2 linked regions of the Homo sapiens genome follow. The protein of the gene in region 1 interacts with the protein of each later gene in a pairwise test. Each region holds a gene or a part of one and is shown on either strand. Other genes may lie near its edges.

Region 1 (7,684 bases):
TTTTAAAAATAACATGGATTCAAAAGTTACATTCTAAAATAGAAGACACCAATCCCCTATCCAGTGATGCACATAGCTACTCCTGGTGTGTGCATTGGGTATACACACATGTACATCACAGTCAGCTAAATGCCAGGCAAAGCACAGTGACACCTTCTCAGTATGTGCACTTGTCACACTGTGAAAAATGTACAGAATCATCTGAATGCCAAACACACCACATTATGATACAGTATAATTTAGTGATTCTTTTAAGCTTTGGGTATTTCTTCCTTAACTTTTATGTTGATAAATGCTCTTCTTTTCAAATGAGGTAACGATCGTTCTTAAAATTATAAATGGATCACTGATTTAAACACAAGAAATTTAAAAAAACAATGATGGACATGATACAACTGATCCGACTTAATGGATAAGTTATATGATAGCTACTAGCAAAATGCTAGTAAGTGACTCCCAAATGCAATCAACCTCACTGACAAGAACATAAGAGAAAAACAGTATGCTAAAAACATTCAGTCAATTAAAGAGAGAAAACAATGATACCGTTTTTGTCACTGGGGTTTAGCTCTTTATGGTAATTAGATGCATGTGTTTTGCATGGAGATATATGCAAAACAGTTCTAGGGTCTCTGTCAAATGTAATTTCTAGCAAAACAGACTAAGGATATAAAAACGAAGCTCTGGTTCTTTCGAGGTAAATTTACTAAATATTATTAGAGACCAAAATGTAAACAAAATATAAACACAACAATGAAAATGAACTTATTGCGTCACATAAAAGAAGTCACTCCATGTGTGCAGCAGGTTGGCAGGGCAAATTTACTACACCCTGTGCTACTGACCTGGCAAGAAATGTGTTAAATGAGCCTGCTGCTTAAGAAAAAAACATAGTGTCATCATTTGATAATACAGTCCAGTGAATAATCTAGAAACACCTAGCATTCATTTTTTCACTACAATTCAATCTGGATGCCATAGATTGCTCAAGTTTGCTTATTTTTGCATGATATGTTCATATAGGTAAACAGAAAGATGTTATACATTTGTAAAATATGTGATACACACACAACATAAGGAGTATGTTCAGATCAAGATTTTTTGTCATGTAAATGACTTTTAAGATGCATTCTGTATATATAAATATTATATGTAATATGCTATAAAGCATATTAATGAATCAATCAGATGCAGCCCTAGCTAACTTAGGAACCAGACCACCAATGACACAGCACATGCCCAAGCAATACACTCCTCCCTACCCTGCTTCACCTGAAGAGAAAGTAGCTTGGCTGGGCACAGTGATTCACGCCTGTAATCCCAGCACTTTGGGAGGCCGAAGCGGGTGGATCACCTGAGGCCAGGAGTTCGAGACCGGCCTGGCCAGCATGGTGAAACTCAGTCTCTACTAAAAAAAAATACAAAAAAATTAGCTGGGCGTGGTGGTGCATGCTTGTAATCCCAGCTACTTGGGAAGTTGAGGCGGGAGGATCCCTTGAATCCAGGAGGTGGAGGTTGCAGTGAGCCGAGGTAGCGCCACTGCTACCCACCAGGAGTGACTTAAATTACCCCCACCTCCACGTACATTACTGGCCAAAGTAGCTGATATCCCTGAGGGAATCTAAGCTGACAGGGAAAAGACATTATAATTTGATCATTATAATAAATAAAGACAATAAATTCAACAACCTCTACCATATGAAACAAAATTAACAAATACCAAAAGATAAAACTATACATTAAATACTTAAAGATACCACAAAGAGAAAAGAAAGGATATTGGTAATATGAAGAGGAACCAACCAGAACTACCAGCTATAAAAATCTTAACAGCTGAAACAAAGAACTCATGGCTATCCATCTAATTGCCAAAAGATAAATGACAAAGACAGAAAAAAGGGAAATAATATAAATAAATGGAAGGCAGAATTAGAAGTGTCAACATCTGTAAACAGGAATCCCAGAAAGAAAGAGGAAAAAAAATTAACAGACGATAGAAAAAGTGATAATCACAAAATTTCCAATTAAAGAAAGATAAAAGATCTCAGATTCAAGTGTCGAAAAAGAGATTAACACATGAAATACTAAGGAACTTTTACACAGCTTGAAGGGTAAAGTTAAATGACAGGCTGCAAGATTTACAACACATACAAAGAAAAAGGCTAGCCTCACCCTCACCCTCGCCCTCGCCCTCTTTGCATGGTCTCCCTCTGATGCCGAGCCGAGGCTGGACTGTACTGCCGCCATCTCGACTCACTGCAACCTCCCTGACTGATTCTCCTGCCTCAGCCTGCCGAGTGCCTGGGATTGCAGGCACGCGCCACCACGCCTGACTGGTTTTCGTATTTTTTTGGTGGAGACAGGGTTTCGCTGTGTTGGCCGGGCTGGTCTCCAGCTCCTGACCGCGAGTGATCTGCCAGCCTCGGCCTCCCGAGGTGCCGGGATTGCAGACGGAGTCTCGCTCACTCAGTGCTCAATGGTGCCCAGGCTGGAGTGCAGTGGCGTGATCTCGGCTCGCTACAACCTCCACCTCCCAGCCGCCTGCCTTGGCCTCCCAAAGTGCCGAGATTGCAGCCTCTGCCCGGCCGCCACCCCATCTGGGAAGTGAGGAGCGTCTCTGCCTGGCCGCCCATCGTCTGGGATGTGAGGAGCCCCTCTGCCCGGCCGCCCACTCTGGGAAGTGAGGAGCGCCTCTTCCAGGCCGTCATCCCGTCTAGGAAGTGAGGAGCGTCTCTGCCCGGCCGCCCATCCTCTGAGATGTGGGGAGCGCCTCTGCCCAGCCACCCCGTCTGAGATGTGAAGAGCACCTCTGCCCCGCCGCCACCCCGTCTGGGAGGTGAGGAGCGTCTCTGACCAGCCACCCCGTCTGAGAGGTGAGGAGCCCCTCCGCCCGGCAGCCGCCCCATCTGAGAAGTGAGGAGCCCCTCCGCCTGGCAGCCGCCCCGTCCGGCAGGTGGGGGGCAGCCCCCGCCCGGCCAGCCGCCCCGTCCGGGAGGTGGGGGGGTGCCTCTGCCCGGCCGCCCCGTCTGGGAAGTGAGGAGCCCCTCTGCCCGGCCGCCACCCCGTCTGGGAGGTGTACCCAACAGCTCGTTGAGAACGGGCCATGATGACGATGGAGGTTTTGTCGAATAGAGAAGGGGGAAATGTGGGGAAAGGAAGGAGAGATCAGATTGTTGCTGTGTCTGTGTGGAAAGAGGTGGACATGGGAGACTCCATTTTGTTCTGTACTAGGAAAAATTCTTCTGCCTTGGGATGCTGTTAATCTATAACCTTACCCCCAACCCCGTGCTCTCTGAAACATGTGCTGTGTCCACTCAGGGTTAAATGGATTAAGGGCGGTGCAAGATGTGCTTTGTTAAACACATGCTTGAAGGCAGCATGCTCGTTAAGAGTCATCACCACTCCCTAATCTCAAGTACCCAGGGACACAAACACTGCGGAAGGCGGCAGGGCCCTCTGCCTAGGAAAACCAGAGACCTTTGTTCACATGTTTACCTGCTGACCTTCCCTCCACTATTGTCCTATGACCCTGCCAAATCCCCCTCTCCGAGAAACACCCAAGAATGATCAATACTAAAAAAATTAAAAAAAGAAAGAAATAGGCTGAACTCACTTATGAACAGAAATTCAAAAATCCTAAATAAAATAATAGCAAATTGAAAAAAAAAAAAAACAAAAAGGCTAGCATGTAAACTACATAGAGCCATCTGCTGCAAAACAACTAGATCATGACACAAAAATAGTTTTGTTGCATAGCTGACATCATAGGAGTGAGAGAAATTCCAGAAAAATAAAAAGAGAAAAGTAGCCCTCCAACTACTTGGGAGGCTGAGATGGAAGAATTGCTTGAACCCAGGAGGTCAAGGCTGCAGTGAGCTGTGATCACACCACCGCACTCTGGCCTGGGCAACAGAGAGAAAGCCTGTCTCAAAAAAATGACCAACCCACTATTAAAATAGGTAAAACTCAAGAAAATTTTCCTAACTCACTATCTCCAACTCTACCATTCTCTTTTAAAACACTAGACAAACACTGTTCTCATCCAGAACACCAACGTTCACTGATGTTTCCTAAGTGCTTTGAATTTTTACCCCTTCTCCCCACATTTAGGCCTAGACCATATGTTAAGCTAGAGTGAGTATCCTGCTACATACCACAGTTGTAGAGTTAGCAATATAACTTTTTTCTTTTTTTTGTTTTTGTCTATCATTAATTTACTAGTTAGAAGAGCAATTTAAGTTTGATACGCAAATTTCCCCCTCTCCCAGGACTTGGTCCCAAGGCCCATTTTCTTTTCCTTTTTTTCTTTCTTGAGACGGGGTATCATCACTCTGTTGCCCAGGCTGGAGTGCAGTGGCACACTCACAGCTGACTGCAGCCTCAACCTCCCTGGCTTAAGCAATACTCTCACCTCAGCTTCCCTAGTAGCTGGAACTACAGGCATGCACCACAACACCTAGCTAATTTTTGTAGATATAGGGTTTTGCCACGTTGCCCACACTGGTCTTGAACTCCTGGGCTCAAGCGATCCGCCCACCTTGGCCTCCCAAAGTGCTGGGATTACAGGCATGAACCACTGCACCCCGCCCCAAGGCACATTTTCTTCTCTATCTGTAACCTCCCTGTAGGTGATCTCAAATCCAATGGCTTTATTTTTCTTTTTCAAATAAACTTTTACTATCACAAAAGCAGTACATGTACATTGTAAAAAATTAAGAAAACAGCTAAGCAAAAACAAGAAAAATGCCATATTCTAACTACCCAGAGATTACCACTGTTAATATGCCTTTAGTGTGGATTTCTCCAGATATTCCTGTGCATACATACATTTTTTTCCAAAACGAGAGCACACTGTTCTTAATGTTTTCTATCTTGCTTCTGTCCATTAACACTCTCCATCTTTCCATGTCAATGACTTTTCATCTCATCTAATACTCAGTACATATTCAACTTTGTACAACTGTCACCAAAATCAAATGAGAAAATATACCTACAAACTTCTGTACCTTTGCATAAATGGTGCCTTAGGCCCAGACTACCCCTTCCTCACTTTAGTCTGCCTCCAAACTCACAACTAATCTTTGAAATTCTACACAGCTATCTGTTCCTCTTAGAAGCTTCCTCTGAACCTCCTTGGCCCCTCCAGGTTAATGAGGTGCTTTGGTACAAAGTAATGAGTTACCATCCCCCTGTACCTCTACTGTTCTACTTTGTGTGCTAATTTTATTTATATACCTATAATTTCCACCAAACTGTGTCCCTAGTTTTTTGTGTGGTTTGTTTGCTTTTTAGACTGGGTCTCGCACTTTTGCCGAGGCTGGAGTGCAGGGGCATGATCACATCTCACTGCAGCCTCAACGTCCTGGGTTCAGGCGATCCTCCCACCTCAGCCTCTAGAGGAGCTGTGACCACAGATGCATGCCACCATACCCAGCTAATTATTACTATTATTATTTTTGAGATGGAGTCTCACTCTGTTGCCCAGGCTGGAGTGCAGTGGCACAATCTCGGCTCACTACAACCTTCGCCTCCCGGGCTCAAGCAATTCTCCCAACTCAGCCTCCCGAGTAGCTGGGATTACAAGCGCATGCCACCACGTCTGGCTAATTTATTTGTATTTTAGTAGAGACGGGGTTTCACCATGTTGCCCAGGGTGGTTTCAAACTCCTGAGCTCAGGCAATCTGCCCACCTCAGCCTCCCAAAGTGCTGGGATTACAGGTGCGAGCCGCCGGGCCCAGCCTAATTATTTTTTAATTATTTGTAGAGACGGGGGTCTCCCTATGTTGCCCAGGCTAGTCTTGAACTCCTGGACTGAAGTGATCCTCCCACCTCAGCCTCCCAAAGTGCTGGAATTACAGGTTTGAGCCACCATGCCCAGTCCTGTGTCCTTGTTGAAAGCAGATACTGGATGTTATTTCACCCAAAACAGTATGTGGCATCTAGCTGGCATTCCATAAATATTTATCTTACAGAAGAATGCTGGCACATGCACAAAACAGAGATCTATAAATATTTATTACAGTGAATTGACTTTATAAGCTATATAAAATAATGTAGGGAAATAAAGAGTTGAGAGTAAGGATAGCTTTTTTCCTATGCCTATTAGTTATGAAATCTTGGGATTTCATAACTAATTAAGTCTTATGCCCAGACTCTGTGGGTCTCTAATCTCACTGGCAAAATTAGAAGGATGAACTAGACATATAAGACGTTATGATTTTGAAAGCTTTGGAATACAGTCTTTAACAACCATTCTATTATGTTTTCAAAACCACATTTAGACTGGCAATACCAAGTGTTGGCAAGGATACGGAACAACTGGAACTCTTGTACGTTGCTGGTGGGAATTTCATATGGTACAGCCACCTTGGAGGACTGAACACTTGACATCTGAATATTTTATTATATGTAAATTATATCTCAATTTTTTAAAAGTTCAAGTCATATAAGATTTTCAAAACTTAGAAATTTTTACACTTACCTTCTTTTCTTTTGAGCAAGGTTGAGTTCCATAAACTTATACTTCTGGTACTGTTCATCCAGCTTCTTTAATACTGTATCTGCAGTCTCATTCCCAGGCTGTTTCATGAAGGAATCTACATCTTCCTTTAATATCAAAAATAATACTTTACAAATTTTAGAATTCATGCCACTCAGATTTTTTGACTGCTTTGTTTTTAAAACATAGAAGAAAAAAAAGCTTTGTTTTTCTCCAAAGGTTTGTTTTTAACTAAAAGTACAGGTTAAGCACCCTTATCTAAAATGCTTGGGACCAGAATTGTTTTGGATTTTAGATTTTTTTTTTTTTTTTAGATTTTGGAATATTTACATTATACCAGTTGAGCATCCTCAATCCAAAAATCCAAAGTCCAAAATGCTCCAATGAGCATTTCCTTTGAGCACTATATTGGTGTTCAAAAAGTTTTGGATTTTAGAGCATTCTGGATTTCAGATTTTCAGATTTAGGATGCTCAACCTGTAGTTATAAAAAGTTAGAGACAATTTCAGATGGTACATATATATTATATAGCTAATTTATTCTTTCACTTTCCTCTTCATTTTTTATTCAAAAATAGGAAAAGAAGAATGACCTTGCCCACCACTTTATGCATTTCCCATGCATCCCTAGTAGTAAATATGAAACTAACAATCAAATACATTGCCTATTCATGCATCCTATTCACAAAATGATTTTACAGGTTGCATGTCAAGATTATCAATTTTATTACTTATTTTTAATTCAACAAGTTTTACCATAGAAATCATACTAAATATGGTTACTGGGTTCCCAAGGCAATCCACAAATGCTTCCTTCAGTATCAAATAACTGAAACAAAGTAAACCTAAAAGGCAAACAGAATAATCTTTTGTAACAGTAATAACTGATCAAAAGAAAAGCAGTAAAACTGATGTTAAAATATTTTTTATACCACATGCTGATCCTTGAAGAAAGGCTAGTTAATTAGATAAGGATCAGAAACAAGATGAAAATATATGAAACTTAAAAGAGATGCTACAAGAGTCGTCTAGTACTTTACAGAACTCTAGTTCTTTATTATAAGTAACTTCAATTATCTTATAGCTTCTAAGATCTTCACATCATTATTCTTATCCATATTTACTAGCTACCAGAGAATATCTTAGCTGAAACAAGGAAGAAAAAGGAAGAGAAACACAGCAAGG
Region 2 (7,684 bases), on another chromosome or scaffold:
AGTGTACCCTGAGAGAACACCAAACATTCTGCTCTTAGGTGCTCCATCCACCTACACTGTTTTATTCCCATGCCTTCACCAGATGTTGAAATGTGCTGCCAAATCAAACCTAGACGTAAGACAAACCAAAATAACAAGGAAAGCTTGCTGGTTAAGACTGAGAAACAGCGTGGGGTGGGCAAAAGCTAAGATGCTCGGGTATGAGTCTCAACTTCAGTGTTTCTAGATGGCCTTGGGCAGGTCCTTGTCCTTCAAAGATCTTGCTCAGCTGCAAAATGAGGAGGCTGCACCAGGTGTCCTCTATGGTCCTAAATACTATAAGGCGCCGAGTGACATCTTTATGTGGCATTATGATGCATCTTTTGTGATCAATCTGGTTTTTTAGACATTATTTTGACAAGCTAAAGGGCAAAAAATGCAGATCTAATAATCAGCTGTGACACAGCATGATACTTCTGTCAGCCATAGCCATACCCAGACTAAGTTGCTCTTCTAATGTTCATGAATATTCAAATACAAACAGGACTGTGGACTCCTTCTAAAAGAGGTGGATTAATAGGTCCCAGGAGCAGATCCCTGGTTACCTTGACACTCCACAGTGATTTCTCACATCCCTTAGGTTCCAGCAATCAGGGCTTCCCACCTGCAGACAGCAGCCTCTACCTGGGTAGTTTAAACAGAAAGGAACTTATTAAAGGCTATCATGCAGCTCATTAAATCCCTGTGAGAGCCAGAGACCAAGCTTGGGAGCTCTCCAAGGGTCAGGGTAGCCAGAAAAAAAAGCCTAACCATGCCCTGGCACTGTCTAGTAGAAACTGCTGGTACCAGCACCAATCACAAGGGACCAAACTCCTACAAAGTCCACCACAGCCACCCCACAAGTCCAGATGTCCCTGCCACCGTGAGTGACAGATATCACCTGCATGCCAAAGACTTCAGCTCATGGGACTCGACTGCACATCCGGGGCTGGGTGATGTATCTGGCTGCTTGTGAGGATCTGTGTCAAAGGCCTGCACCCTGGCTGCAAAAGAGTCTGGGAAACATGGATTTAGCTTCCCAACCTCTGCAGTGCAGGAAAGCCAAGTGAGATGGGGTTAGAAACAGTTGTTGACTGAACCAATGACAGTATCTGTTACTGTGGCACTTAATAAAGCTCACCCCCTGACGAAACTGAGTGGACACAGCCACGCAATTCTGTCTGAAGGTTTTCGTCTCTGCCTGCAACTTGATTTTCTTGGTATGCAGCCAGTGGTGTGCTGGAGCCAGCTCACAGTGGCTTGTGAGATGATCAGGAATGTTTCAAGTTAGCTGTTTTAACTCAGACATTATTCAAAACTAAACTATACAAACTTACAGTCAAAGAAGTTATATTAAAAACACAGGCAATACATACTCAGAACCCATCATTTCCTAGTCATTCTACTACACATTCCCATTGCCTACGCTGTGGACGCTGCTCCACCTGCCGGTGCGGGGGCTTGCCACGGTCCACTCCTCCTCATGCCACATCCAGGGATATCGTGAGTGGCCAGAAATCAGGGAATCAGCCAGAATGGGATTATTTATGGAAATGCTATAAATCAAGGCTTGATTTCTTGTTTTGTTCATTGTCTGGACTTAAGAAAGTAATGGAAAAAAATTGTCAATAATGCAGATTAAACTGAAATTTTTGTCTTGTCGATAGCTGTTATATTGTGAATAGCTCACAAAAAGCTGAGGGACTATTCTTCTAGTATTCCGAAACTATTATGTGATTTAGGAAAGAAGTTATTTAGATCACTGACAAACAAGTGAAGTTCTGACATATGTTCATTGTTCCACTTTCATCTTACACTTTATTGTAAATGAAAATATCACCCAAAATCCATGTTGCAGCTACATGCTGAGAACCAGCTGTTAAACACTTACCACACACCACAGCATGTACCCCATATACTTTCTAATTCTGGGCACCAGAATAATCAGAGAGACCCTCCTGGAAGAGGCAGGAGGCCTCCAAAGGGCAGACAGATACAAAGAAAAGAGAGGGCAGAAAGAACGGCACACGCGAATGCCAGGCAGTGACAAGAGTGGGTTAGACGTAAATCGAGAGTGTTTGTGAGGACTGTTTATGGGTAAGATCACATGGTCTAGCCACAGGGACCCACACCATATCTCTTAGGGGAGACAGTCGTTCTTTTATTCTGTGATAACAGGATGAATAGCATGGAAGTATTGCTCCACATGCAATGAGAGAGAAAAACACCTCTTCGTAACAGGACCTGGGATGGAGACAAGCCCACTTGAGTGGTTTGGGAGAAATGCTTCAAGATCAGGGATGGACCATGGACTGCCTGGGGTGCCTGAGGAATGTCCCATTGAGGAGGTGATATTATCTCTGGGTGTTGATGGATGAATACGAGTTCACCAATCAGGGATGGTAAGATGGCACAGGCAAAGTCCTAGTGGAAAAGAAGGGCTGGGTATATTTCAATCGTGAGGAAAAGACTGAGGGGCAGGAATTCAGCGAGACAGAGAGGATTCCTGTAAACGACCACTTTTCATTCACACTAAGCCAGGTCAGACCCAATTGTGAAATTCAACCCTGCCGAGGGAGGTATGGGAGAATAAGGAGAGAGAGTTAGAGTGGGAGCCAGGAATTTGCCCAGCTCTTTGCTCTGAAGAGCTCTGGGCTCCTTGACATCCATTTGCACTCATATCCTCCAAGAAGGGTGTACTCCCACCGTGCAAAGTCAGAGAACTCCCCACCCCATCCTCCTTCTCCCCCAGCCCTAGCACAAATGGAGGGGCTGAGGCAGTCACACTATGCCCAGCCTTCCAGACCACCAGATCCAGCAGAATGGGGGCTCAAGCCTGAGGGTCCTCACTGGTTCCCGTGCAGACACCTACAGAGGAGCCTGTGGCCAAACTCACACTCAGAGACATGAAATTATAGATGTCCTCCAGTGGAAATTATAACCCAGTGCTATTTCCCTCCAGAGCTTGCAGCTCTACCCTTGTGTGCAGACTTGAGGTGACCCTCAAGAAGCAGCCCAGAAAGCAAAACAACTGGGCTGCATCTGCGAGCTGCTCACACCAAAACACCGTCAGGGCTGCCATGCTGACTCGGGTTGCAGAGACCACCTTCAGCAGCCTGCCTGGCCATAGTCAGTGTTGCCGCTATCACCTACTGGACTGTTGGTCCCTGGGGAGAGACAGCCTGTGTTTGATCTATCTCTGCAACCCCCGCAGGGCATCTCAGGAAGAGTGGGGTGGACTGCAGGGTCCCCCTTTGCCCCAGGTTTTTAAACCAGCTGACAGGAAAGGAGGAATACGCGATCTCTACGACAAGAGCAGTCAGATGGCTTGGTTCTGTTTTATGCTACTCAGCATCCTTCCTAACCAAACCCAGTTTCAGTTTGAGAAGCTGCTTATGTGTGCCTGGTACTGGAACTCTCTGAATAGCTCAATCCCGGTCTTTTTTGAGCTTATTTCTCCAGTTCTTCCTCTGACACTGTGATCTACCTGCCACCATAACCTTCTAATTAATTCCTTCTTCACAAAGTTGGCCAGAGTCCATCGCTGTGGTTTGCATCCAAAGAATCCTGATTGCTATGGATGTGACAACTCACCTCAGCTCAGAGCACTATACCTCCAGGACTCTCTCACAGAACAATAACAATCAAACACAGACACTCACACACACACACAGCTGCCACCCAGAGATGCCGGCAATAACAATCTCACACACACACACACACACACACACACACACACACACATGGCTGCCACCCAGAGGAGCCAGCAATAACAATCACACACACACACACACACACACACACACACACACACACACACACACGGCTGCCACCCGGAGGCGCCGGCTCAGCCCTGCCCCTGCACCTGTCAGCATCTAGCAGCAGCTGCCACATTCACAGAGCACACAGGGCTTCTGCCTGCCAGCTCTGACTTAATTCGACTGTGTTTGCACCCTGGTTGAGGGCAGTTTTCCTTCCTTGCTGGTTGCCATACTCATTTTTTCTCCTGACCCTCAGGAGTGCCAGGCCACTTCAGGCACCTGGGGACAGGGGATCTGTAGGCATAGGTGCACAGAAGGACAAAAGTTGGAGCAATGCACATGCAGGCTTGGCAGGATGGGTCTGGCTGTGCCTGGCCCCCACCCCCACACTAAGGGGCTGCCACCCCACCACCTGGCCCTGCCCCTAGAGAGAGCATGTGTAACCTCATCTCCACTCGCCAGAAGTGCTCACTCTTGGTTCTCCCCACACATGGATCCACTCGCTTCTCTGCTCCCCTGGCAGAGCTTCGCGAACTGCCTGCCTGTGCCAAACTGGACCTCCATGGATGGACCAGCTTTCAGCCTCACCCTGGAAGTGCCCACGGTGTGGAAGGGAAGACATGCACTGACCACATGTAAAGGTGGCACCCATGGGGAGGTGGTATCAGCCCTGCTGGGATGCCTTCATCCCTACCCGCTCTCACCAGCCCCACCCTCAAGTTCTGGAAACTAGAACTCAAGCTCTTCAAGTGCCCCCTCCACTGGTGAGAGGTACTGGCAGAACCAGACTCCACTCAGCATTCCAGAATTCTCATCCTTAGAAAATATTTATCCCAGGGCTCAGGGAGAATCTAGGAGTGGATGAGAGCCTCCATGGCTTGCTATGCATAAATATAGCCTGGGCCAAATCAGCTTCTTCCTCTCCCTGCTTCCCGCCCAGCCATGAAAGGATGTACCTGCGTCCAGCCACTTCCTGCAGGAGCTCTCAAGGAGATGAGACAGAGAGCCCAACCCTCTCATGGAGTGAAAGCATGGGATAAATCAGAGAGAAAGCAAGAAAAGTGAACATAAAACCTCACGTTCCCTTTTGTCACAAGCTTTTGACTAGCTCCTGTGGAACATCGCCACCCCGCCTTGCCCTGCAGACCACCCCGTGTGACTTCATGAAGAGGACGCAAACCACGTGGTGCAGCAGGCTCCACACCACTCCTGATGCCCTTTTTGAGTGGATTCCTCAGAGGGGGTGCCTGACGTCAGAGGTGAATGTCGGCCAGTGTCTCCCAAAGAGGCAGAGGCAGAAACATCACTCCTCTCTGTGTTCCCGAGCAAAGCACTCAACCTCTCTGAGCCTCAGGTTTCCATCTGTAAAATGCGCTCTGGCTAAGCTGTCTCTCCAGGCCATCCCAGACCTACTCATGTATGACTAATTGGAAGAAACCAGTTCTCCTTTACAGCAGGATGGAACATTTGCTATCAGGATGCTTCAGGGTATCAGAATAGAAGTTACCATTTATCGGCTACGTAAGTATCTACATGACAAACAATAGTATTAACAAATGAAATAAGGCACCTTGTTCATTTCATTTTCATAAAAACCATATGAGGGAAGCTATGTGTCTCAATTCAGATGCACTTATCTCCAATCTGCCAAATGCCATCCCGATAAACTCAGGGCAGCATCTCAGCTTTCAGAGACCACTGTGGATCCTGACACCGCCAACTGCTGAATTAAATATCCCACCCAGCTTCACACTCCATCAATGTTAACATCCAGATCTTAATAAGAAGGAGCAGGAGGATGGAGAAAATGAGGAGATGAAACTAGGAACTAGCTGGGGACCTTTCATCCCACCTGGGACCCTGGAGGGTCACCGCTGTCGCATGCATCAGCACTGCATGGAGTAAGGTCAGTAAGGCCAGGGCACAGCACGTCCTCCAGAACCCCAACAGAACAAGGGCCAGACCGAAGACCTGCAAGGTGGAAAATGACGTGAGGCTGGCATGACTTGTCCCCAGGGAGCCCCCGCCAGCTCCTCATGCACGTCTCTCCTTTGCCCACAGACTCACAGCCTTCTTCTTAGTCTAGGATCTTTCCCAGGGCCAACATCAGATTTGAGTCTCTTCCACCTCCGGGCTTCATTTCCAACACCTCTCAGACAGCACCTCAGATGGGGGTATCTCATTCCAGGTCATGCTATACCCTGGCCAGGGCATTCTCTTGGTCAGAGCCCTGAGCACACACACTGCAGCCCACGCTACGTGGCTCCTGCTTTCCTCCGGGAACCTGCCTGCGCCCTTTGCACCTGCAGATCCTCCTCTGTCCAGACCGCTGTGGGCACAGTGGAGCTGTGCCTTCCTCCCCTTCACAGACACCAGCTGCCCTAGACGGCGATGGATCTATGAAGCCCTTGTTCTCCTTGCTCCGAACATGATATGAAAAGATGCTTTGTGGTCGTCAGCTCTCCTCAGTAGGTTCAGTTCACACCCGGGCTCTCACCCCCTGACACTCTTTACTGGCCCTCGTCACTCTGTCATTGTGAGTGTCCTGGGAAGGGCTCCTCTTGTTCTCCTTGGCTCTTGTCCCTCTGACCTCAGCAAGACATCTTTCTGAGCCACACAGATGTCTCTCATTGCCACCCCATGTCTTTCCTACTTGAAAAAAACAGATTTAATTCCAGGACTCACCCACCACTTTCAGAGCCCTCAGATCACGTGAATCACAGAAATCAAGTGATGATCTTTGAAACTTTCTGAAACTGAGCTCCCCAAGTCTACAGGGGATCTAACCATGCCTGGCCTTCCCCACCAACACAGAGCACATCTCCCAAAGGCTTCCAACCAACCTGGGCCATCAACCAGGGTCCCCTGTTGCCCAACTCAGCAAGTGCTGCATCCTGGGAGATGAAGCCTCGCCCACCCCACAGTGTTAAGAGCTTGTGGTTCTCGGTTTATCACCCATCCTCTGGTGACTGCACACTGATCATTCACTCATCTGGGAACCACTGGCCACATTCTCCCACATTATCACCTTGACCAGGTTGTCTCAGGTAACCTTCGAGCCTTCCATCCAAATAGATGTTAAGTGCACGGGCTCCACGGTTGGAGGCCAGCTCTGCTGTATCCAACCTGTGACCTTGGGCAAGGCGTGGGTCCCCTCCAGGCCTGTTTTCTGATCTATAAAGAGGGTCACCTTGGTGTTTTCTTCACTGGGTTGTGGGAAAGATTAGAAGGATTAATATAGAGAAAGTGCTAAGGAACCTGGCTCAGTAAACATTAGGGGTATCACTTCTTATCGCACTGAGTGCAAAGGGACAGAGTCCACTCCATGGCAGCCTTCCCATTACTCCTGAGCTCTCAGGGACCAGTGCATAACAGTGTTTAATAAATGACCAAACAGCCTGGGCATTTTTCTCCTTCCTGCTCCACCTACAGAAGAAAGAACTCTTGGCAAACATCTGGATAACCTCTTTTTCCTGGGATGTCTGAAGTCACTCCCTAACCCAAGCCAACTGGCCAGCCTCAAGCTGTTCTGAGCTGCAGGTCAGGCACCAGATCTTATTCAGAGACACCATGTACCCCCACCCGCTCCCCCCAAGCAGTGCTTTGCTGCATCTGCTTTTCTCTTCAGTTAAAACACACAAGAGCAGAAAATACCTCCTGTCTTCTAATCCTTTGGTATCCCTAGTCTCTGCAGAAGCTTCCCAGACCCTTTTGGAAGATTCCAGAGGACAATCATCTACGGGCCTTTTCTGCATTTGGATTGTGAGGTCCTGGGGTTTCCTAAGAAAGGGAATACACCTGTTTCCAGGAATCCTCCTGGCTCTGGCACACTGAGGAAATTAAACACTGAAGGTGATCCAGGCTTTCCCAGAGGCTGGCTGGTGGCACTGGGGAGATGAGCAATT

The links. The genes of interacting proteins can lie anywhere in the genome.
Region 2: the proteins of VBP1 (region 1) and ZNF488 interact in binary tests that used the Homo sapiens proteins (3 or more experiments, as listed by UniProt).

What each region holds. Positions count from the first base shown.
Region 1 is NC_000023.11:155,219,106-155,226,789, reverse strand, and holds part of VBP1 (prefoldin subunit 3), read right to left. Parts: intron 6,608-7,684; coding exon 6,483-6,607; intron 1-6,482. UniProt on the Homo sapiens protein: Binds specifically to cytosolic chaperonin (c-CPN) and transfers target proteins to it. Binds to nascent polypeptide chain and promotes folding in an environment in which there are many competing pathways for nonnative proteins.
Region 2 is NC_000010.11:47,373,877-47,381,560, forward strand, and holds part of ZNF488 (zinc finger protein 488), read right to left. Parts: intron 6,986-7,684; exon of another isoform or gene 5,632-6,985; intron 664-5,631; exon of another isoform or gene 585-663; intron 1-584. UniProt on the Homo sapiens protein: Transcriptional repressor. Plays a role in oligodendrocyte differentiation, together with OLIG2. Mediates Notch signaling-activated formation of oligodendrocyte precursors.